Linked DNA regions of Homo sapiens. The protein of the gene in region 2 purifies or fractionates together with the protein of the main gene of each other region. This does not show direct contact. Each region holds a gene or a part of one and is shown on either strand. Other genes may lie near its edges.

What was found.
Region 1: the proteins of SPCS2 (region 2) and MIA3 purify together in Homo sapiens (affinity purification with mass spectrometry; 2 studies listed by BioGRID and IntAct, with this or other methods). This does not show direct contact.

What each region holds. Positions count from the first base shown.
Region 1 is NC_000001.11:222,617,900-222,630,551, reverse strand, and holds the start of MIA3 (transport and Golgi organization protein 1 homolog isoform 1 precursor), read right to left. Parts: upstream 12,456-12,652; 5' UTR 12,442-12,455; coding exon 12,309-12,441; intron 9,394-12,308; coding exon 9,260-9,393; intron 7,246-9,259; exon of another isoform or gene 7,201-7,245; intron 5,785-7,200; coding exon 5,698-5,784; intron 2,978-5,697; coding exon 163-2,977; intron 1-162.
Region 2 is NC_000011.10:74,949,427-74,962,078, reverse strand, and holds part of SPCS2 (signal peptidase complex subunit 2), read right to left. Parts: intron 1-12,652. UniProt on the Homo sapiens protein: Component of the signal peptidase complex (SPC) which catalyzes the cleavage of N-terminal signal sequences from nascent proteins as they are translocated into the lumen of the endoplasmic reticulum.

The DNA.
Region 1 (12,652 bases), on a different chromosome or scaffold from region 2:
CCTAAAAGAAAGATGGCAGGAAGGAACATGTGGACCTCCCTGTGTTGTCCCTCTCCTTTAGGCACATTGGAAACTGAACAGAGCTTCACAAGATAGGAGGCACCTCAGCGACCCACCCACCTGCTTCTCCAGCCCTGTTCTACAAGGCCATAGGCATCTCACCTTCCATTGCTCCACCCAAGCCTTCCTCTAGAGGTGGTGCCATCACCAGTGTGGCTGTCTCCTCTGCTGTGGAGTGCTTGTACCTGACAAAATAGATGAGGTCTTGAATGTCATCAAGCACTGCAGCCTCTTCAAATATGTTATTTTCGTTCATTCCCAGATCTCTATTTTCAGCCACACGAGTATCAAGCATTTTTTCTGCTATGCTCAGAATTTGTGACTCAGAAGCACGGAAGACCTTATCTAGGACTTTTTCCATATTATAGGGCAGGCTCTCCTGCTGCGCTGACTTCAGTTTTGATGACATTTCTTGTAGCAAGGCTTCCAGCTCATGGACATTAAAGTACTTCTGGAACCGCTGCAAAGACTGTTGTTCTTTAAAGAAGCTGCTTATGATAAGTAAGTCCTCCCTCTTGTCACTATGCCCTGGCTCTACACTTGTATGTGGAGTCCAGTGGAACGAGTCATCTTCAGGTTCTGCAGCAGCAGACCCCTGGCTTTCTGTGCCCATGTACTTCTCTGTGTTCTCATGGTCCTCTTTTGAGAGTTCTCCCTCAGGCTCCCCTGCAAGCCCTGAGGTCTTCAGATGTTCCTCAGGGTTGTCGTTCTTCAGATAATCAGAATCTTTATTCTGAAACACTTCACCTAATTCTGGAGTCTGAATTTTTATGCTGTCAGAAAAGTCACTTCGTTCAAATGGTCTCTGTGCTTTCTTATCTGCCAGAGGGCGTTCTTTTTCCACCATTGTATTTGGTTCCCTGCCTCCTGTGTTGACCCCTTTGGCAGCAGTCTCACTTGTTTTTTCGCTATCCAAAATCATACTAGTTTCTTGCTTGCTTTCTTCAATTTCTGGATCTGGATGAATGGTCCCTAAAACTGCTCTGTCAGGGACTTGCAGATTAACATCAAACTGCCTGCCCTGATTCCCAGGGTTTTTTTCTTTAGACCGTTTTGCATTTATAGCGTTTTCATCCTCTAGTAGTTCTTCAGAGGGATAATCATCCTCTTCTACTTTAGAAAGGAAAGCTGGTCCTCCTGTGCTGTCAGTTTGGTCTGTCTGTCCTACCTCTGTGCCCTGCATTGCCTTGTGATGAAAAAACTCTTCATCCAAGGAGTCCTCTTTGGCTTCTCCCTCAGAGAGCCTTATCTTCTCACTCATTTGCTTACTGGCTGTGGCAGCCACATCTCTTTCTTGTTGCCAGGGAAGATTTCTTCCCAGAATGGGAACCTCGTCTTCCAGTTCTCTGGGCAAATCAATCTCATCTGGAGAGGAGAATCTAGGTTGGTTTTGAGTTTTAAGAACTAATTCCTCTTTCAATTCCTCACGTTGATGCTCCACTGAAAGCGTGTGCAGTTTGGCCCCATTTACCAAAGCGTCTCCCTCCACACTGTCTCTGGATGCGTTAGGGTGGTCATCTCCCATGAGTGGTGCACTACCCAGGGATTCCTGTTGAATCTTTCTGTCATTCATTTGATTCCCTGCAGCTTTCTGTGCAGATTCACTCTCTGAGCCACCTTCCAAAATCTGCTCTCCAGGCTTTTCTTCGTGGAGCATTCCTTTTGAGATATGAATAGCTGCTCCTTTTAGGTCATTTTCTGTATCATCATAAGCTGATTTTAATGTGTCTTTACCCTTTTCAGCAGCTGGCATAGAGTTGAGGTTATTGCTGTGAACAGAACTGTGCACAGTCATGCCTTCTTGATTTTCATCCTCTAATTCTGTCTTATCTTGTACCAGGCCCCTCTTGGATTCCTGAACTCCCCTCCCTTTTCCTTTAATGTGATGTTCTGCGTTTACTTCTTTGTCATTATTTGTTTTAGGAATGTCTACAATAAAAAGACCATCATCTACATTGTCAGGGTCACTATAATCTGTTGCTGACTGTGGTTTCCCCTGTTTGCTATCTGGGACTAATGCATCATCATCATCTTCTTTTTCTTCCTCTGAACTAGAGCTCTCTAAATCCATCGTATCTCTTGTTTCTTCACCTCCTGTGACAATAGAGAAGATAGTGTCCCCCCAGGTTGTTAGTATATTTTTATCATCATTTTTGATGCCAGGGGGCACAGTTAGCTGAACCTTGTCCTCTTCATTTGAATTCTGCTCTTTATCTGTTGGATATTTCTCAACGCCAGACTTTGCTGGAGTTTTCATATCTTCCCCATCTGTAAAGGTAAGTAATGGCAACTCATCAAAGTCTTCTTGGTTCTCCTCATCTTCCTTTCCAACTGCATAATACTCAGTATCCAATTCCTCATCAAAATCATCTTCTAATGAAGTAACGAGTCTGGTTGTCTCATCATCAGATACAAGTGCATCAGCTGTTGAGCCAAATTTGGTTTTCAAGTCTAGAGTCATTTCTTTTTTCAAAAGTTTATAGGCATCAATCTTATCCTGTTCATTTGAGACCTGAGAACTATTGCTGGTTTTGTTGTTTTCACTTTCTGGCACTTTTAGTTTATCTTGCAGCATTTCTTCAAAAGATTCAAATGAAGCCTGCTCTCCCTGAGCATGATTTGCTTGGCTGTTTGCATGGGAGTGGTGCTTCTGAGTTGTAAACTGTTCCTGAAGATCCTCAGTGTTTTCTGAGAATACACTATCACTTTCCTCTGAGTTGGCTTCTACTGGTTCAGGTTCAGGTTCCCTTTCCTTAGATAATTCAGGGTTTTTTTCCATATCCTGTAAAGTTTTTTCTACAGCTTTCTCAGAATCTGTAGCTGCAGAATTGTACAGTTCCAAAAACCCTAAAAGTTCTTCTACATTATAATTATGAAAATCATCTCTTCCTCCATCAAAACAAACAAAATCCGTCTCCTGTAAGAAAAAGAAAAACATTAGTCTGTCAATAGCCAAGTGTCACCAGAGCAAAGTCTTATCCACGTTAATGATTGAGATAATCTCGAATTCACGTTTGGCTCTAGAGGAGCTTTTGCGTCAACACTGGGCACTGACTGTTCTTGGGCAGTGGGTGGATAGGAGGCTGGAACCCACTTTCCCATCTGAGTAATACTCCTGGCTTCCCTTCATTCTCTCTTCCCCAGGGGAAGAATGATTCATGTGGCTGGTGAGTTTGCTCAGTCCCAATCCTGTTTTCTGTTTGGGACCTGCTGGAGAGGAAACACATATTCTGTTCCTCCATGCTGTCCGTTTTACAGGGACAGTCCCACCTGGGGAGACCCCTATTGGATAGCTCTGTCTGTGACTGGATAAGTCCATCTTAGTTTAGACCGCAATGTTAGAAAGCCCATTATTTCTGCATACTCCAAACAGCTTTATCAGTAAATAATGGGGTCATTTTGATCTCCTATTTGCCCAACTCCTGGGTCTCTCAATTTTGTTTTGAGCACAGGTGGGGAAAAGTAAGGTGTCATTTATTGGGTTCCCCAACTCCCATCATCTATGCCTGATGTTCTGGGAATTCACCTTATAACCCATCCAGGAGGAGCTGAAAGACCATCAGCTTCTCTACATTGTGCCCTCTATGTCATACTTCTCTGCTCACCCAGTCAGAAACAGGCAGAATCACCTGGCTGTCAGGCTCTCAGTCTACATGGATTTGGGGCTCATATTTTCCTTGGACTGGGAAAGAAATCAGCTTCAGAAGGAACTTACTGAGATACAGGTGCATGAGATATAAAAATGTAAGAGAACAAAGAATGGTGTAAAGGAGGCTCCCCATTTTCATACTGCCACAAGAACAACTTGAAAACAAGATTCAGTAAGGTAGGTACCTAACTCCAAATAAGGATTCTAGCCAGTCACTAAGATCTGCTTTCAGGACTGTCAAGTAAATCTGTATTTTTCCCTTCCTCCACCAGTAAGCAAATTGACATACAAGGAGCCATAAAATGATGGAAAAGTTAAAAAACCAACAAAGATAACTTTCTTCCCCTAACTAAACATTCACAATCTTCTGGTGAGAACTGTCCTGTGTACTGGAGATGAATGACTTCCCTCTTTCCATCATGCACACTTCTGAGCCAATTTTTTTAATATTAAGGGAATCATGCAGTGGGAACTACAATTAGTATACAGGTCAGGTCTCTGTGACCAATGAATTGCTGTCTCACACTCAAATCCCGGGCAGTCTCTTCATCAGGAGTGAAGCCAAACAGGCAATACGATTGACTATATAACCCCTGAGAGCGTCGAGAAATTTTAAGCATAGCAATAGCTCTGTGACTTCACTCTGCCAATCTCTTCTAAGAACTGCCCTAGCCCAGCAGCTTGCACGCTCTGCAGCAACTCCAAAGAGCTACTCAAAGACTTTTGAATGAAAGCAGACATCAATTACTATAAATTCTAAAACTCACAAAACAATCAGATGGGGGGCTGGGCATGGTGTTTTTTATATATATATATGAAAGGCAGCCTGTAATCCTAGCACTTTGGAAGGCCAAGGCAGATGGATCACTTGAGGTCAGGAGTTTGAGACCAGCCTGGCCAACACGGTGAAACCTCGTTCCTACTAAAAACACAAAAAAATTGGCTGGGTGTGGTGGCAGGCGCCTGTAATCCCAGCTACTCCAGAGGCTGAGGCAGGAGAATTGCTTGAACCTGGGAGGCGGAGGCTGCAGTGAGCTGGTATCGCACCACTGCACTCCAGCCTGGGCGGCAGAGAGAGACTCTGTCTCAAAAAAATAATAATCAGATGGAATGCAGATTCTAGAACACAAAATCCTTCTAGTCACGAAGCCATTGTGCACTATAGATAAATGCTCTACAGAATGTGTAGTTAGCGCCTTACAGATATGAGACTGGACCTCACCTGAAACTCTCTGGTTCCCTTTTCCAAATCTATAACTATAATCGCTTAAATCACTACAGAGTCAATAATAAGAAAACCTTTGTAAGTTTGCATTTCTGGCTCAGTATAAAATTAGAGCTTAATTAATTTAACCTGATTTCTATATCCTTAAAATGTCTAACAGCTATCCAATAAGTAGTTTTCAAATTTCTCCTTTTGCTTGTGAAATGAAATTTTTTGCCTTCTAACATTAATAAGTAAATATAAAACTACTGAACTCTTAATTTTTCACATATAAAGCAGCAAAGAAAAGCCTTGTATAAGAGTACACGGCCTTGGCCGGGCGCAGTGGCTCACGCATGTAATCCCAGCACTTTGGGAGGCTGAGGCGGGCGGATCATGAGGTCAGGAGATCGAGACCATCCTAACACAATGAAACCCCATCTCTACTAAAAATACAAAAAATTAGCCAGGCGTGGTGGTGGGCGCCTATAGTCCCAGCTACTTGGGAGGCTGAGGCAGGAGAATGGCGTGAACCCAGGAAGCAGAGCGTGCAGTGAGCCGAGATCACGCCACTCCACTCCAGCCTGGGTGACAGAGCGAGACTCCGACTCAAAAAAAAAAAAGAGTACATAGCCTTATATAAGAACATCTATTTCCATATATTAGATAACTATCAGATTATGATAAAATCTCATTTAAATTCTTTTGAAATTTTTCTTTTTTTCTAGGTAGTCACTTATAAGCCAACTTATAACTGAGAACAAGACAGAAATCCACAACTTACATCTGTTGGAACTTGTAGCTCTTCTTTGGTATATTCATGAACTACCTGGATTAAATCTTTTGGAAAATATCCAAAAGTGCGTCCAACCTACACAAAAGAATGGGCAAAAGGGACACATATCAATCAAATTCTGTATGAGAAATATGAACGATAGAGCTGCAAACCTCAATCTACAGCACATATCAAGCAATCAACTTTTTCTTGTAATGTCATTACTTTTCTCCGCTATTTGAGACCACTTCCAACATCACTAGTGACACTTTGTATGGGTCCCAGAGTGTTATTCAAGGTTTACAGTATTGCACTAAACACAAAAAATACATGAGAACCACAAGAGATCACTTTTTACTCACTGTACAATTTACTGGAGAGATGAACTGCTCACGTGGAAATGATTAGCGTCGCATGGCATTTTAAGTGGATACTCACAATACTTGAGCTCACTAGAATAGCAAGAGGAGGTGGCTACGAACTATTATAGTACAGTAGGTAGCACAATTAATTTATGCAATTATGATTTAATATTTTATCTTTACGTTTGTTTATATTTCTCTCGACTGCAAAAGGTGCCATGTAAGATCTGAGTTTGTGTGTGTACGTTTTGATAAACTGTAACTTTTTATACAGATTTGTGTATGTTTTATGGTAGTAAAGAATAAAATACACTAGGATCTACATATGGTTTACATGTCAATAACATACCTTTTTCTTAATTTTTTCAGTATTTCTAGGCTATGCGGTCTGAGAGTTTTTAACAAATTAATGCAAACCTCCACAAAATTTTACAATATATTTATTGAAAGAAATCTGCATTATAAGTGGACCCACACAGTTCAAACCTGTGTTGCCCAAGGATGAACTGTATTTGCACATATGATGTGCTATACTGCCATTTTCCAAAACGATATTACAGGTAACTGGAGACAAAACAAAATTACAGTGTAATACACACTAATCTGCCCACCAAGCTTTCATTTCATGCAAACCAAAATCTCTACAGAAAATAATTCCATTCATTTTCAGCACTAGTAAAATGTGCCCTCTTGAGAAACACACAGTCTTTTACTAGCTACTGTCTGAAAGGAGAGGTAGATCTCCCAATCATTAAAGGAGGAGGCTGGCATGTAAATCAAATGCACAAAAAGAAAAAAAGGCCATCTTATCACTAATTCATAAAACATCTCCATTCATGAGTGCTCTTGATCTGAAAACTATCTGAAAGCCAGTATTAGTAGTAAAATACTGCCATGGAGATTAGATAAGGGCAATTAAACTCTGTGTTATTGGCAGATCAAGTCTAAAATGCTAAGAAACCAAAAAAGACTGCAGAATGAAAACTAAGAAACAAATGAGAATCATTTTGAAAGCTGAAGACAGAGTTTTTAATTTCCTAAGAATAAGGTTCATCAAATTAGAGGGGAGACTATTTTAAGGGAGAACCTGGAAAAAGGAAACAAATCAGAGGTAGAGGTATATAGGGAAAGGGAAATACAATACATTTACCTTCCTTAATCTTTGTCAGTTGGGACCACAGGTGGCATCTCATTTCTTATGATTTGACCAAAAAAAAAACAAAAAAAAAAACATAGGCTCACATGACAAGAAAAAATCTTTATGTCTAATTTTGCTTTCATACATCATTTCTGCCAAGGTACTGTTGATTTCATTTGGGCGGGGGGTAGGAGGGAAAGTAGAGTATCGCCTTAAGAGAACAAATTCTGCATAAGATAATATCAGGACAAATATAAATAAATGCCACTGCCTCGTCAGGAAATACTGAAAAAGAAGACAGATAAGGCATGAGCCTTTCCATTAAAGAGTCTTTCACTTTACGTGAGCTAAGACAGTACACAAATTAACTGCCATACAAAGCAGTAAAGCAAATGCCACATGAACAGTGCAAACAAAGTGCCACCTAAACAATCATCAGGCAGCAAAGATCCCTTCTGGCTGGGTGCTGAAGGCAGCGTTCCTTAAGAAGGCAGGATGAGAGGTGTGACCCAGAAAGACTGACAGGACATCCAGAGATGAAGACGTGAATGAGCAAAACTGCAGTGGGAGGAAAATGTTAAGTCAAGTTCATTCATCCAAATGCTCAAAGATGAGGAGTGGAAAAAAAAACTTAACTTTTCTATGAAAAAACGCAGCCTAGGTACATGGAAAAACATTTCCAAGAGTAAAGATTATCAACAAATCTCATTAGGTAGACTTGAAGGAAATAGAATAGATTTGTTTTGGTATGGAGCAAGTCACTTGGGATGCTCTCTAAATAGGAGAGCTGAACCTGACCAGTTGTTGTTTCCCAAGATTACTCCCTAGGAACCTGGAATGCCAACAAAATCAGTCTATTTTCCCCAAGGGGATTTCTCAAGCCTTATTTTCTCTTTGTTTGTTTGGTGTTTTACTGACAGTGAAAACTTTCATAGTCGGGATGGGTATTTCTCTAAGTTGGGACAATCCTAAAGATATCGAGGACCCTTACTACTTGAAGTAAAGACACAGTCCACATATCACGCTTTCTAAAAAGGAAAGGACAATAACTCATAAGACAGGCCTCTCAATCAGGTCACTCCCAGTGAATCTCCTCATTAAAAATACCAAAGCATGATGCAGTCATTGATTGCCAGGTCTGATAGCAGGGTACCCATAAAATCAGCTGGGAATCAATCCCCTGGGGTAACCTCCAGACACAAGTGTCTGAAAAGCAGGACAAGGATGACCCCAAGGCTGCAAACAAAAATACAAACAAGAGGCTGGTTGCGGTGGCTCACGCCTGTAATCCCAGCACTTTGGGAGGTCAAGGTGGGTGGATCACAAGGTCAGGAGATCGAGACCTAGCTAACACAGTGAAACCCCGTCTCTACTAAAAAAATACAAAAAATTAGCCGTGTGGTGGCAGGCACCTGCAGCCCCAGCTACTCGGGAGGCTGAGGCAGGAGAATGGCGTGAACCCGGGAGGCGGAGCTTGCAGTGAGCCGAGATCGCGCCACGGCACTCCAGCCTGGGCGACAGAGCAAGACTCCGCCTCAAAAAAAAAAAAACAAACAAACAAGAAAGCACACGAGAAACAACATTTTGCTTTTTTACAGACTTATAATAGCACAGATGATTAGGGAACTGTTCCCAAGACTGCCACTTTTTCATAAATAATAATATAAACAAAGAAATACACATAAAATCAACTTTAAGCTTACATGCCTGAAACACTCTCTCACATATAGTTTACAGGAGTAAGTCTAATTCCTATGAATACTTCCTTTTTAAAGCAATGAAGTATTTTTCAGCTCTTACCATTTCAACCTCTAATACGTATGCAGCATCCTAGAGGTTGACCCTGAGGGGAACTTGCCAGAATCAGTTCTATTTCAGAAGGCTCTGCTGAGCCCCTACTCTGTGCAGACCCAAGGCCTGCTGGGGACACAGGGCCATCTTTTTTCACAGTCAGGCAGAGAGGACAAGTTAACTCCATCAAAGGTCCCAAGAAAATGCAGTCATTTAACTCTACAGTGCTAAAGAAGCCAATAAAAATTAAGCAAATAAAGTATGTCGATATTTTACTTACACTTCCAGCCCAAACTTCAGGCCATCCTCTTGCCAGTTTATAGTAAACATATACAGGATCACCTTTTTTAAAATTCACAAAACGACAATCCGGGCCTGTGAAATCTTCAAGAGCCTCACCGCGGTACATTAACACTGTATATAAAGAGAGAGAAAAAAAATAGCCAGATATCAGGATTCAGTGTTCACAGTGCATATTGATTTATCAGGAAATATAAGAATCCCACTATAAACAACAACCAAGTTTTTCCAGTACTCTCTGGAATTTCTTTCATATGCTCAAAGTATCTCAAATCCTTTGAGCTTTACTGCTATAAATCATACCTTCTGCAAGCAGACAAGGGAAAGGAAAACCTTCTCTATTTTTCTCTATGGATAATACTGAGAAACAAAAAGCAATGTGCCAACTACCACACATGGCTTTTCTCACCCAAGTGAAACTCTCGATTCCCTCTCTAACCTTCTAGTCCTCAATCTTTTCTGTTTCATATTCATAAAAAGCTTCCTTTTGCAAATGGGTAAATTCAAGCCCAGATGATGATTAACTTAAGCATGGCTACATGAACGGGTAATAGGGAACTAGAGTACCCAGGAACCCCCAAGAGGTCAATTAACTTGAACTAACCACTAAAAGGGTCTATCTTCAAGTGACTGTAACCAGTACTATGTAGCAGTAAACACTGTCAATTTCATTTGCAGCCAAGTTGTTCCCTTAGTACAGTGTCTGGATAAATTAATGGGAAAAGATATCTATCACACCCTACTATAGATTCAATTACATCACAAGGCAATATTTTCTGAAAGTAAATAATGTTGACTGTATCCAAAATTAAGTTTCAAAACAAAGGAAAGAATACCCTTATGTATATTTTTCTATAAACAAAATCAAAAGTCGACATCTCATTTGGCTGGGACTAAGCAAAACTATGAGAATAGGTCAGTAATTCAATCACGCTTGATCTAGAAACTGGCTGAAGCAGTACTTTTATTTTTGTTGACCACATACACAGTTTCCCATGTAAGATGAAATGGACAATAAATACATCTAAATAGCAGAGACAAAGAAGGACGAATAGAAATAAGATTTTTTCCAAAAGCCAATTTGCAATAAAATACATTAAAAACGTGCCTTTAAATGGCTATACACGCATATAGATTTGGAAGGGGCTACTTGTTTTTTGAAGCTAAACTCTGATTACTTTCCAACATGTCAGCTTTGTAGCTCAGATATAATTGAGTGTGAGGCCAGGTTTAAGATGATGGACAATTTAAGGTTGGGAATAAGATCAGAATTGAAAATGGCAATGTTTCTTTTGCTCCCCCTTACAATAGATCATAGAGGATTTATAATAATATTTGAGATGCCAACAAAATGCACCCTGTGGAACAGCTATTTGAAAACCACACAAGGGCACCGTACATACTCACATTACTAAACACTTTCTACAACACAACACAGACCCATCTAGACCTTGCTCCTGTTGATGCCTATTGTATTTGGTTTCCTCTGAACACGTACCATTTCTCAAGTTATGTTACAACCGTGAGCTCTTCTAACATCATGCCTCAGTACTGAAGAAGCATCAGTGATGTGATGATTCTCCAGGTAACCTGTTTTGAGGAACCCAGGCAGGGCAATGCTTGCAAGCAAAGAATACCAACTATCTTGCCATTGCCAACGGCAAATGGGTAACAGCGTGGCTTTGACCCAAGAAAACTAAAGGGAAAAATCATGGCAGTTGTACCGCTTTTGTAGTGTTTATTTACATCAACCACAGGGTTATCTCTAGGAATGGCTTCACACTCATTAGAGATCTCTTTTCTTGATTAGTGTTGTAGAGATACAAACAGTTCATATTATGAAATTCGGTTTTGATAACATCAATTTGAATATAAATAGCTAAACCATAGAGTTCTTGGCCTTCTTAAAATGAATACGTTTCTATAGGCATTGCTTAACAGTGTATGAAAAACCGTTTCTGCAGTGGCTATCAGTAAGTTACAAGGTTGAGACGGTCTGGGAGGCCCTAAAATGATCCTGGTCCGGCGAACATAGAGGGAAGAGGTTTCAACACGCAAGCGGCTAAGGCTAAACCAAGCTTGGCTTATGAGACCCTTGGAGTATTTACTGTCATTCCTGTAATAACCTTCTTCATCTGAGCCTGAAGATCTGTGCCCTCTCCACCGCCCACCTCCAATCCCAGACTGGAGAGCAATTCCGCTTCCTGCGCACAGAAGAGGAGGCTGCCGGTCCCAGGTGGCCGGTGCAGATCCTCGGTCTCTGCAGAGCGAAAGATTTTGGTCTTCCTGCAGTCCTGCCTAGCAGTCTGCAAGGCGGCTTCCAAGCACAGAAACGACAGGATTGATCAAAGTCGGGGCAGAGACCTCGGAATACAATGAGTGCTTGGACTCCAGACTCGTCCCAAACCTAAACTCCCAATTCCTGTTCAAAAGGCGGTACAAGCCCAAATCCCAATAAAGCAGAAGGGCAAAGGAGCAGCGCCAGGGAGCCTTTCCAAACAAACCCCACCATCAACCTGCCACTGGGAAAACGCCCACCGAGCCCTTAGCGCATCTGCCGGGGTGATGCACCCACCGAGGTCCCCGCAGCGCGGGCAGGAAAGCTTTGGTTGCGGCGTGGGGAGCCCAGACGCGCGGCGCGCAACCACATCTACCCTCCGAGCCCAGGCGGATTGGGGGGGTGGGAAGGGGACGCTGTGAGCCACTATTGGGGAAGCCGGGGACCACCGCAAGCAACCCCCCGCCTCAGCAGAGGAAAAATAAAACGCTGGCAACAAGTGGGAGGTGCAGCCCCCATGGTCAGGCCCGAGGGGCCGGGCGCAGGCAGAGCGGGAGAAGGCAGACACAGGGACCCGGAGCGCGCCCACCCCCGCGTTCAGCCCATCCCGCCTGCGACCCCCGGGCCGGCCAGGGGCTGCGGAACTCCCGTCCCCGCACAGCCCAGGCGGCGCCGCCGCGGAGACCCCCGGGGCCGGCGGAGACCCCAAGGCCAGCCGCCCCGAGGCCAGCCGCCCCTCCAGCGCACTCACTGCTGCATTCGTCGTCCGCGCAGAGTTTGTGCTCCGAGAACCGCCGGCCAGTGCTGGGGTCCAGCTGGCCCGGCACCCGCCAGGGCAGCCGGAGCACGAGCAGCCAGACGAGCAGCCCAGGCGCCGCAGCCATGTTGTGGTCACCTCGGGGAGCCGGTGACGCGGAGGAGGAGGCCGGGGCGGGCGCAGAGGGGCGGGACGGGGGCGGGGACGGGGCGGGGACGGGGGGGCTGGGGCGGGGGCTGGGGCGGGGACGGGGCGGGGACGGGGGCGGGGACGGGGGCGGGGGCGGGGGCGGGGACGGGGCGGGGACGGGGGCAGGGACGGGGGCAGGGACGGGGGCA
Region 2 (12,652 bases):
CCAGAAACCAATGTCCTTCAGATTAGAAAACTAGAGTTCAAAGATGTTAAGTGCCATACAAATAGTAAATGACAGGCCAACAAAATTCTTTAGGGCTAAATTACAAATACATGGCTCATTATAAAACTGTCTCTTCTTCAGTGATATAAACTTATTTTTATTTGCCTTAATCCCTGAACTCAATCCCAAAGCAGATTGTGGCCTTATTCTTAAAGGTGTACTGTACTTCAAATCACAAGCTGATTGGTTCTGGTCAGGTGCAGTGGCTCACACCTATAATCCCAGCACTTTGGGAGGCTGAGGCAGATGGATCATTTGAGGTTAGGAGTCCGAGACCAGCCTGGCCAACATTGTGAAACCCCATCTCTACTAAAAGTACAAAACTTAGCCAGGCTAAGTAATCCCAGCTACTTGGGAGGCTGAGGCAAGAGATCACTTGAATCCAGGAGGCAGAGGTTGCAGTGAGCCGAGATGGTGCCATTGCACTCTAGCCTGGGTGAACAGAGGAAGACTCCATCTCAAAAAACAAACAAACAAACAAACAAACAACAACAACAACAAAAAACAAGCTGACTGGATTTAGACTAAATACAAATGTATGTAGGCAAATGCTTTTTTTCCTTACCCAATAAGGTGAATCCTTATTATCCAAGGGAGAATGGAGTCAGGCTACTTTATTTTAATCCTCACTTTTCCACTTAATACTGGAAGGCACTGGGCAAATAATTTAACCTCTCTAAAGCCTTATTAGTTTGCTAAATTGTAAAATTAAGATGGTGAAAGTATCTATTTCACAGGTTGGTATGAGAAGTAAATAGTGTAATTATAAAACATAGCACAGTGCACAGTGCCTGGTACCTAGCAAGTACTTCATAAAAATTAGCTATTGCTGTTGCTATTAATGATATAAAACTATATAATACACTGCATCATGGTTACCTGACTGTATGTATTGTCTCCCTCACTGGGTCACAGGGACTATACACTTTTGTATTCTCAGAGCCTGGAACACAATATACTCTCAATAGCTTTTTTTTTTTTTTAATGTCTAAATCCTTATAAAGAAAAAAAGGGAAGAAAAAGATCTCTAAAATGTTACTCTCCAGTTTAAATTTAGCAAATGTAAACATGGTCAAAATGATCTCACTTGGTTCTTATTCACAGAATTTCTTTAAGGGATGGAGGGCAGACAGAAGGTATAATCATAGCTACCATTTCCTGAATGCCTAACATGTGCTACGGATGTGCTAAGTATTTTATATACACTATCTCACTTAATTTCCACAATAACTCTACAAGGTAAGAACAGTTAAAATCCTCCTTTTACAGATAACACTAAGGGTTTAAAAAACCTGCCAAAGGTGAAAGGCAGAAAGTGGTAAAGCCAGGACTCAAAACCCATGCTCTCTCATTATTCTACACTGCTTTCCCATGAAGTGCAAGGAAAGGAATTATTAGCCATCAAAAACACAAAGAACAGGAAACAAAGAGATCCCTGAAGTGACAGCTATACATTGTATCTTGATTCCTAACAAGCTCTAGTAATAACATTTTAAAAACCTAAAAAAAAAAAAAAGATGTTAATCTTGAATAGGACCACAAAACTCACAGGGTATCAAAAATGTTGAACCTCCCCCCCCAATGTAAAACCAACTGCAATTTGGCTGAAAACAGAGCTCAAAAAGTACTATCTTAAAGAAATTACTCCCCTACACCACCCACTGAAGAGATAAAGACAACTTTTTTTTGAGACAGAGTCTTACTCTGTCACCCAGGCTGAGCGCAGTGGCGCGATCTCAGCTCACTGTAACCTCCGCCTCCTGGGTTCAAGCAATTCTCATGCCTCAGCCTCCCGAGTAGCTGGGATTACAGACAAGTGTCATCACAGTCAGCTAATTTTTGTATTTTTTAATAGAGATGGGGTTTCACCATGTTGGCCAGGCTAGTCTCGAACTCCTGGCCTCAAGTGATCCACGTACCTCAGCCTCCCAAAGTGCCACCACACCCGGCCAAGATAAAGACAACTTTTGTCAGACTAACACACCTGATGCCAGAGCTGGCTGGCTAACCAGTTCAAAGAAAACAGGCATTTGATAGCTTTAATAGAACATTATGAAGAATCATTTCAGTTACGTTTCTCCACTGCACATTTGAATAATAAAAAATTCTACAAAGACACTTCACTGAAGGTATGGCATCAGGAACTCCATAAGTGCTTAGGAAGGATATTAAACACAACTCAGGTCTGAAGGATATGTAGTCAGTACAGGAAGGCATTTTCCAAATTAACTCATTTGAGGGAATACAGCCTTCTGTTCCCATGCATCTCACCACACTCAAAGGGATAGGGTGGGATCAAAAAAAGAGACAAAATAAGCCAGGCACAGTGGCAACATGTTTATAACTTCAGCACTTTGGGAGGCCAAGGTGGAAGGATCGCTTGAGTTCAGGAGTCTGAGATCAGCCTGGGCAACATAGCAAGACTCCTCCGTATCTACAAAAAAATGTAATTTAAAAAATTAGCCAGGTGTGGTGGTGCCCACCTAAAGTCCCAGCTACTTGGGAGACAGAGGCAGGAAGATGGCTTGAGCTCAGGAGGTATAGGCTGCAGTGAGCCGTGATTGTGCCACTGCACTCCAGCCTGGACAATAGAGTGAGAATCCATCTCAAAAAACAAAAGGACAAAATCCTTGGTCATTAGGATATGTCCAGCAAAACAAAATTGTTTTGAGTATGACACATGAACACCTTCAATTATCTTATTTTAATCACAGTGAAAACAGAAGTTATGCAGTGATATAAAAGACCTGAGTGGATTGCTTCATAAAGTTCCCTGGCTTGATAATAAGACTCAAAGGATTCCTCAATTCACACTGGAGAGATGAAGAATTACCAAGGGTGAGAGTGGTGTCAATGGTGACCCTGTTCTGATTTAGACAGAACTGAGCATGGCTTTAAGAAAAATAAACTTTTTCTCTCCTTTATCCCAGTTTAGAAAGTAGACAGAAGCTGCAAAGGGGGAAAGTAGTAGGAGATGAGGCATCCGAGAGAAACCATTTCCTAGTTATTAGGCTAAAGAACTTGAACTTTATTCTGAAGCAGGCAATGGAGAGTATTTTAAGCATGGGAATAACAATCAAATTTACGTTTTTTTTTTAAGTCATTTTAGTGGCAACCTGGCAGATGATCTGGAGGGGAGTAACACTGGACATAGAGATGCAGATGGGGCCTGATGTAAGTGCAGAGCCTCAATGCTCAACAGAGCAGCAGTAGGGGGACTGAAAGGGAGTATTCTGAGGTAGAATTGGCAGGACTTAGTAACAGACTAGTTATAAGGAACATGAAAGAGAAGAGACAGAGATGACCACCTACTAGAATTAGGGCTTGGATGACTTGTTGGAGCCATCATGTCATTTTCCAAGAAGAAGAATACAGGAGGAAAAAGGATAAATACCCATTTGTATATGTGGAGTTCTAAACTAAAATAAGGAGATAATAAAAACTGATGGCAAACTCAGAAGCTGAGATTACAATTTCAGTTGGAAATATATAGTGCCTATATCCCCCCCACACACACATATTTAGCAAGAAAGGAAAATGTTCAGTTTGGGAAGAAAATGATGTCTATCTTAAGAATGTGCACTGTCATCTAATTTAGATCCCAATTCAGCAAAAACATGGTATCTCAAAGAGATTATGCTCTTAGCAACACACTGAATCTTCAATTTCAATCTATTTTTTATAAAAATGGCCAAGATACACTGCAAAGAAAATTACTAGCTTAACAGTGCTTATTACTGACTGCATTCATCACTGGAGTTAGAAGTTAGGAAATTACCATGTGTTAATTAAATTATGAGCACACACATTAGTGACAACCCCAGAGAAACTGATTCTTAGGTTTTACACTGCCTTCTCTACTCCACCACAAACTGCATTTAGCAGTGACGGGGCTGCTTCTACATCAACCCAGCCCATGAATAGAGAAGCCTACATGACTGAAGCTCTTTGAGGGCCAGATCACTGGATCCATGACTTAAACATCCCACCACTGAACCCAGTAAGTGTGAGATCTAAGGCTGAAAAGAGCTTAAAGTTAAAACAACTTGATTCAGCATATTAATCAGTAATGCTCCAACAACGAAGTATTTTTTTCTACCAGCAAACTGAAATGTAGTCAACAATCCTTTCACTACTAGCAACTAACATCTTCTAAAGTCTGACTGAATTGTTGGCATAATCATCCAGTATGAATTTCTTACCTTTGCAATGGGTAGACAAGAAATCAGATATACAAAAAAAATGGTCTTTACAATTTAGTTAAGGAAAATCCTATACTTACAATGAATTATAAACTATGCTAAGTGCTAAATGGTAAGAAGTAGACATAGAGGGGCAAGGGCACACTACAAGTTCAAGGATCTGCAAAAAAGATTTTGGATAAAATGTTACCTATTTCCTCAGGGATATCAATCTGCAGCAAAGCTGACTGGGGAGGGTTGGAAGAGAGAGGGATGCTGCCAAGGAAGACCTGAATTAAGGCACGAAGACTGGCTAGGAATGTACTACATTGATACAGATGTGCGATGAGTCCTTATTCTAGAAAGGTGGCAGATCACGTGCTCCATTTAAGAATTACATGCAATCAGTTCTGAAAAATGCAGCTGAGTGCAAATTCAGGGAGAGGACCATACAGCCGTTTCATCTGAAATCCATCTCCTACTGCCTGGAAAAATATTAACTGTTATATGACTTTTCTGGGTTTCTTTTTCTTTTTAAGGAAACTGCCAAGCCTCTCAATAGCAATTCATTCCAGTGTTGGACATTCTTTTAAAAGAAAAAAATAATATTTTTAAACACAACCTTTATGGCAATTACACTCTTTATTTTCTTTAAATTAATATTGAATGGCTGCTTGCTATGTGCCAAGCACTGTTCTAGCCACTAGGGATATAGTCATAAACAAGACAAATTCTGCACTCAAAGAGCTTCTTCTTGTATGGAAGATAAAAAGTAAACAAATACGCATATAATTCCAGGCTCTAAAAAAGATTATACAGAAAAATGCAATAGAGTTTTTAAAAAGACTAAAAAATAGTGAGGGAAAATAGTTAACATCTGAGCAGAGTTGAATAAAGGAGTAACCCATGAGAAAATCTGGAGTGTCCCAGTGAAAACAGTACACCAAAATCCCCCAAGCTTAACGTGTTTGAGGAACAGCAGAAAAGCCAGGGTTTCCAGAGTATAATGACTCAAGCAGAAACTGACAGATGAGGATGACAGAAACAAGCAGGATCAAGAACATGCAGGGGCTATAAAATAGGCCACAATTAGGGATTTGGAGTTTAGCTAACTGAGATGGGAAGTTACTGGAGAGATTCAGCAAGAGAGTGAGTGATCTATGTTTTAAAACATCAGTCTGGCTGCTGTGTGGAGAACAAAATGTAACGGAGCCAAGCACGGAAGCTGGAAGACCAGTTGAAAGGGCTACTACAGCTCTCTAGGTAGGAGTGGTCAGATTCTGGATGTACAGCCAGGAAAATACGACAATGAGATGGCTGTGGAGTACAAAGCAAAGAGAAGAATCAAGGGTAACTCTCAGGTTTTTGTTTGAATAAATTAGATGAATGGAGGTATCTACCTGAAATGAAGAAGACTGGGAGAGAAGCACTTTGAGGGGTAAGCGGAAATCAAGAGATTGGCTCTGGCTATTGATGCCTGATACATGTTTTAGACATTTAAGTGGAGATGACAAGTAGGCGGTTGGACAGAAAAGTCTGGGACTTATAGGAAAGGTCCAGGTTGAGAATATAAATGTAGAAGTCAGCAACTTCTACATGTTATTTAAGTCATGACATTGGGTATCACCTTGGGATGAGGGTAGACAGAGGAGAGGGCCAGGGGTAATAAGCTCATAAGCTCAGGGACTGGCAATATTTACACAGGTCAGGAAGAAGACCAAAGAACAATGAAGACAACAAAGACTAGTTGACGTAGGAGGAAAGCTGGGGGCAAGTGGTGTCCTAGAAGCCAAGTAAAGAAAGTATTTCAAGAAAAAAGAAGTGATCAATAAGTCAAATGCTACTGAAAGGCTAAGTAATATAAAAAACTACTATTGAAATTTGATAAGATGGAGATCAGAGCAGAGAAATGGTGCTAGCAACAGCTGAAAAAGGTACCTAGGCAGGCAGATATATATATATATATATATATATATATATATATATTTTAATTAGTAATTAAAGTAATAGTATTAAAGTAATCAGTGTCTGTGATACCACTGTGTTACATGACATATAGTTTAAAGAAATAATAATTTGAAACTTTAAGGGTTACTCCAGGAAAGACAAAAATAAGTTTCTAAAATTGCGATATAGTTCACACACTATAAAATTCACTATTTAAAAATAATGCCAATTCAGTGGTTTTTAGTATACTCACAAGGTTATGCAACCATCACCACTATCTAATTCTAGAATATATGCATACCCTCAAAAAGAAACTCCATACCCATTAGCAGTCACATCTTATTCCTGTCCCCTATCCCCGGGCAGCCAACAATCTACTTTCTGTCTCTATGGATATACAAATGCAGTCATACTATATATGGCCTTTTGTGATCGGTTTCTTTCACTTAGCGCATTTTCAGGATTCATCCATATTGTAGTATGTATCAATACTTTATTCTAACGGTCAAATTATATTCCATTGTATAGATATATCACATTGCATTTATCCATTCATCAGCTGACAGACTGTTTCTACCTTTAGGCCATTATGATAACTGTGTTATGAACATTTGTGTGCCAAGTTTTCCTGTGGACACACATTTTCAGTTCTCTTGGGTATACACCTAGGAGTGGAATTGTTGGGTCATATGGTTAACTTTACGTTGAATTTTCTGAGGAACTGTCAAACTGTTTCCAAGAGTGCCACCACATTTTACATCCCTGTTAGCGATATATGAAGATTCTGATTTCTCCATATTCTCACCAAAACAGGTTATTTTCCTTTTTTTTCCCCCTTTATTATAGCAATCTTAGTGGACGTGAAGTGGTTTCTCATTGTGGTTTTACTTTGCATTTCTCTAATGACTGATGATGTTGCGCATCTTTCCATGTGCTATGGGCCATTCGTACGTCTTCTATGGAGAAATGTCTATTTACATCTTTTGCCCTTTTAAAAACTAGGTTGCTGTCTTTTTATTACTGAGTTGTAAAATTCTTTATATAGTCTAGATGCTAGACCCTTATCAGATATATGATTTGAAAATGTTTTCTCTCATTCTGTAGATTGTCTTTTTTCACTTTCTTGATAGTGGCCTTTGACACACACATACTTTTTATTTTGAGGAAATAAAAAATAATGAGTTTTGAGACGCTAATAAAGATCAGTTTGCAACAGTATTAAAAGGCCAGCACCTTGTTTCATTAAACACACACACACAATTATAGTAATGTTATAAAACCGTTCATCTTCTTTGTCAGAGCTAGGTAACAGGGCACAAGCATATCACCTGGAAGTCTGACAAGCTAAGATATCTTCCAGTAGAGTAAAAGAGGAGATACCTAAGGACATATGGTTGGTGGGTGACAAAGCCAAGGCCACAGCCTAGGTCTTCCACCTCACAACAGATGCTCATCCCACTACTACGTTAGCTAGCACATTAGATAGCACAAGGCACACTCTGGTATGGGAAGCAATGTGCTGAGTAAAGAAAGAGCACTGGATTAAGCACTGGGGGAGCCAGGTTCTGTAAGTGTTACTAATTCACTGTGTGGTCTTGGGCAAGTTGCTTTGCTTGTGTCCTTGTCTACAAAATGAGGCTGAAGTATCATATGAGTTTCAGGATCTCTTCATTATAAACATTTTAAAGAAACCACTATTAAGCAGAATAGCTTTTAAAAACAAAACAAAAACCTTAAAATGTCAGAACCAGAAGAGACTTTAAAAAATCATTTAAGCCAGTAGTTCTCAACCTGGAGGTAACTGTTAAAATGCAGAGGTAATAGAGACATGTGAAGAAAAATGCAGATATTCAGGCCTAAAAAAAGGTCCAAAAATCTGTTAATTTTAACTAATTCTCAAAGGAGTCTGATGTAAACAGATTAAAGCTGTGCTTTAAGATCAGGCTGACAGGCCAGCCAGGAGACAGAAATCCAGGTATAAGGCTAAAAGGGTCTAGATAATAGCTTCTGGAAAGCATGGTTTAACACCACATATCAACTTTAATAGCCAAAACAAATTAAGCAAGCAGCTTTTCTTTATAACTGCCAGGCAGAAGAAAATGCTTTGATGTATTTGGGGCAAAATAACATACTGCAATGATCTAAGTCAAGTTATTCTGTGATGGAGGCGGAAAGATTATATTTGCATACTTATTTTTAAGATCAGGAAACAAGAATTGCTGTGTTCTTAAAGTCAGTTTCATAAGAGTAGAAATTCACATCTGCTTAGGGAAAACTAGGAGCATATTTGCATCTCTTTATTACACTTCTTTATGGCAAGTGAAACTACAGCTGCAGAAATAAAATAAAAACCCTCCCCGCCCAAATCAAGACACATCAAATTAAATAAATTATATTAGGCTGGGTGTGGTGGCGCACGCTTGTAAACCCCGCACTTTGGGAGGCCGAGGCCGTTGGATCACCTGAGGTCAGGAGTTTGAGACCAGCCTGGCCAACATGGTGAAACCCTGTCTCTACTAAATATACAAAAATTAGCCGGGTATGGAGGCACATGCCTGTAATCCCAGCTACTCGGGAGACTGAGGCAGGAGAATTGTTTGAACCTGGGAGGCGGGGGTTGCAGTGAGTGGAGATTGCGACAAATCGAGACTCTGTCTCAAAAAAAAAAAAAAATTATATTAAAGGTAATAGCTTCTCATTCCCACACAGCAAAAGCCTCTCTATTCATTCAGATCCTGCTCCACTGAGAATAACATTTTTTTCCCCAAGTTCTCTCCCACAGTACCCTCAGTCTTCAAACAATTAGAGGCACCATCCTCTAAAGCTGTTTCTGAAGACTGAGGTGGCAGATCTCAAGTTTTTTCTCTGCGAAATTCAATGCTAAAAGTACTTATCTTGTGTTGATCACTACAGAGAAGCACTCACAGGAAAACGGGCAAATACAAATTGGTGAAATAATACAAGACAGTATGTCATATTAAGTGACAGCTTAATTCCCATGTGCAGTGTAAGTGCTAGAGGAATTCAGGGAGGGAACAGTTCAATGTAAGGCTGAAACTAAGTTTTCCAAGAAAAGGCACTCAAGCAGCTCTTGACTATTCTCTTCTGTCCCTCACTTATTGGTTAAATCTTCCAAGCACTCTTTTGTGAGACCTTTTATCTATTTCTGCTACTCATGTTGGGGTTCTCATCACCTTGTCATTCTATTTTTTACCACAGACAGCCCTTTACAAAGAACATTTACTTCTAGTAGATTCCAAAGGACAGGGAACAGAGCTGGGTGCGGTGGCTCATGCCTGTAATTCCAGTACTTTGGGAGGCTGAGGTGGGCAGATCACTTGAGGCCAGGAGTTCACGATTAGTCTGGGCAACACAGTGAGACCTTGTCTCTACCAAAAATAAAAATAAAAATAAAATAAAAAGGGCAGAGGAAACCAAACTAAAAAACCCAAAGAACATTTACCAGCACTATACAATTTGATCCTTACAACAAGCCTATAATATGTATGAATGTCCACAATATTTACATAAGGAAATTTAAATTCAGTAATATCACACAACTTATCCAAGGTCATGTGGCTTTTATTAGGTAGGTGCAAAAGTTATCGTGGTTTTTGCCATTACTTTCAATGGCAAAAACAGCAATTACTTTTGCACCAACCTAATAACATGCGGCACTAGAACTCAAATTTGTCTCTTTTTATTATATATTATACACTACTGTGTATACGGCCTTATTAAGAAGTCTTCTAATTTCTGTCTCTCCAAACCATCTGAATAGTTTTCCTAAAAACCACTTTACACAGTCTCAAAACCCTTCAACAGCTTTCCTCTACTTCAAGCAATCCACGGCCTCCCTAATCAGATGCTATCTACTTGTCACTACAGTTCCTTTAGAGAGCCTTCTAGTCAACTCAATACCTGAGAAACATAAAACACCATCACATCTGTGTAACTTTACTCAAGGAGACTTTTTTACCTGGCATGTCTTTCTTTTCTCCCCCCAAATAAGGTGCCAGTTCCACTTTCAGGAATGAGGCCTTTCCTTCAGGCTCTTACTCTTTTTTTTTTTTTTTTTTTGAGACAGAGTTTCCCTCTTGTTGCCCAGGCTGGACTGCAATGGCGTGATCTCGGCTCACTGCAACCTCCACCTCCCGGGTTCAAGCGATTCTCCTGCCTCAGCCTCCCGAGTAGGTGGGATTACAGGCATGCACCACCACACTTCGCTAATTTTGTATTTTTAGTAGAGATGGGGTTTCTCCATCTTGGTCTGGCTGGTCTTGAACTTCCGACCTCAGGTGATCCGCCTGCCTTGGCCTCTCAAAGTGCTGGGTTTACAGGTGTGAGCCACTGCGCCCGGCCGAGGCTCTTACTCTTATCAATAAGCTCGCAGGGTTCACTCTATTTCTCTCATTTGAACTTCCGTAACAAGTACACACTTGAGCGAATATACCATATACTTCCTTAAATAGATTCAATTACCCCATCTCCTATATTTGGCTATTCTGAGTGCTCTCTGACAGTAGGATTCTTGATTTACTCCTCCACCATCACACATCTGTACTGGACACTACAGGTAATGGAGATCATTAATGTGTACTGTCTTACTTGGTTCTTCCCAAAACCCTGTGATCTAGGTGCCAGAGATTCCAAAATTCCAAATGAAGAAAGGTTAAGTGACTTGCCAATCTTCATACTGTTAGCAAGTAGCAGAAATACTTCAAAGCTGAAATCTTATGATCCCCACATCCGGGTTCTTTCAATAACACAATGGTGCCATATACACTATTCCATAATAATAGTATTCTATACTGCCTTAGCAGAATGCCCATACTTAATGTTTGCTGATGATGATCCAAGTGCAAGGAAGAGCAAGAGCAGTTAGTGGGGCAGGTAAGCACAGGCTATGAGGTGCTTACCTAGCAAGAGGGAAGGATTTGTGTACACAAATGACCATCAATTCCCCATACTCTCACATGTCTTGAAGCAATTTACCATCCCAACCTCCAGAATATGTTTCTGTATCTTAAGGTTTGAGTGTGAGGCCAGGTGCATGGTGACTTATGCCTGTAATCCCAGCACTTTGGGGAGCCAAGGTGGGAGGATCTCTTGAGGCCCAGGAATTTGAGACCAGCCAGGGCAACACAGTAAGACCCTGACTCTACAGAAAAGTTAAAAGCAAAAAAATTAGTCAGGCATAGTGGTGCACATTTGCAGTCCCAGCTACTCAGGAAGCTGGGGTGGGAAGATCACCTAAGCTTAAGAGTTCAAGGCCGCAGTGAGCTAAGATCCATTCTGGGCAATGGAGCGTGACCCCTCTCACAAGAGAAGAGTGTGAGAACCATGTCTTTCAAAACCAATGACACTCAAAAAGACAAGTAAAAAGACCTGGATCTTAACCCCTCAACATAATCATGTTTTCATTTCTTAAGCACCTACCATGTGTTATGCACAGGGAAGTCTGAAAGCTGTTTTCAATTATATTCAAAAATTCTGCTTACTATATTAAAGACACCATGCTTAACAATTCTCATCAAACCAGCCCAGGGCCCTACAATGAGAGAACTGGAAGGGAATTTAGAGTTAAGTCCCTCATTTTAAGGCTAAATCTCTCACTTTGCAGATGAGAAAACAGATATAGAGAGAGCAAGCATATTTCAAGGTCACAAAGCTAATTAGAGGCAAAATCAACACCAGGACGTTGTTCTCCGTGCAACTGTTTCTTCCAAGATGCTGTGCAAAGAGCAAGAAAGGCCAACCCAGGGACAGTTTTCCTTTTTTTCTTTTCTTTTAAACCCTTGTTGCTAGGACTGCAGTTAAAAAAAATTTTTTTGGATGAGCAGAGGGAGGAAAGGGGCAAGCGTGAGCGGGCAGCAGTGCACTTGGTAGCAAAGAGGGAGGTGGAGGGAAGAGAGGAGAGGGCGGGGAAAAACAACAGGAAAAAAAGAAAAATCTTAAAGGCTTCTTGTCAGCCCAGTAGAACAGTCAATACTCAAATATTTTCAGTATTCGCCTATCATGATAAAACGCCTAAAAACTTCAGTAAGCAAAAGGACAAGAAGCACTTTGGAATCTGTAGCAGCACGCAAGGGTGATGGTGGTAGAGAGTTTGGGGGATACTGATTCTTTAATCTTTGGGCTTCGGTTTTCCGTGTCTGTGAAATGGGCACTGACAACAGTGCACCCAGCCCCCCAGGAGAAAAGAGATGGACACGATTAAATATAGGAAAAATCAAATTACCGAAAAAGGTGTGGCGACCAGGACCAGAACACTTGCGAGAAAAGAAGAAGTTCTAAAGAGGACCGGGTCCAGGTTTGAAGTGTGATGAGGGCAAGGGCAGGCTCCAAGCGTGCGTAGGGTTGTGATAGTGGTCACACAAGGGCTCCCCTCAAAAGGCCGTAGAAAATAAGGGAGACCGGGATGGGAAGGTTGGCTCGCCGCCTCCCAGGCCTCCCCAGGATTC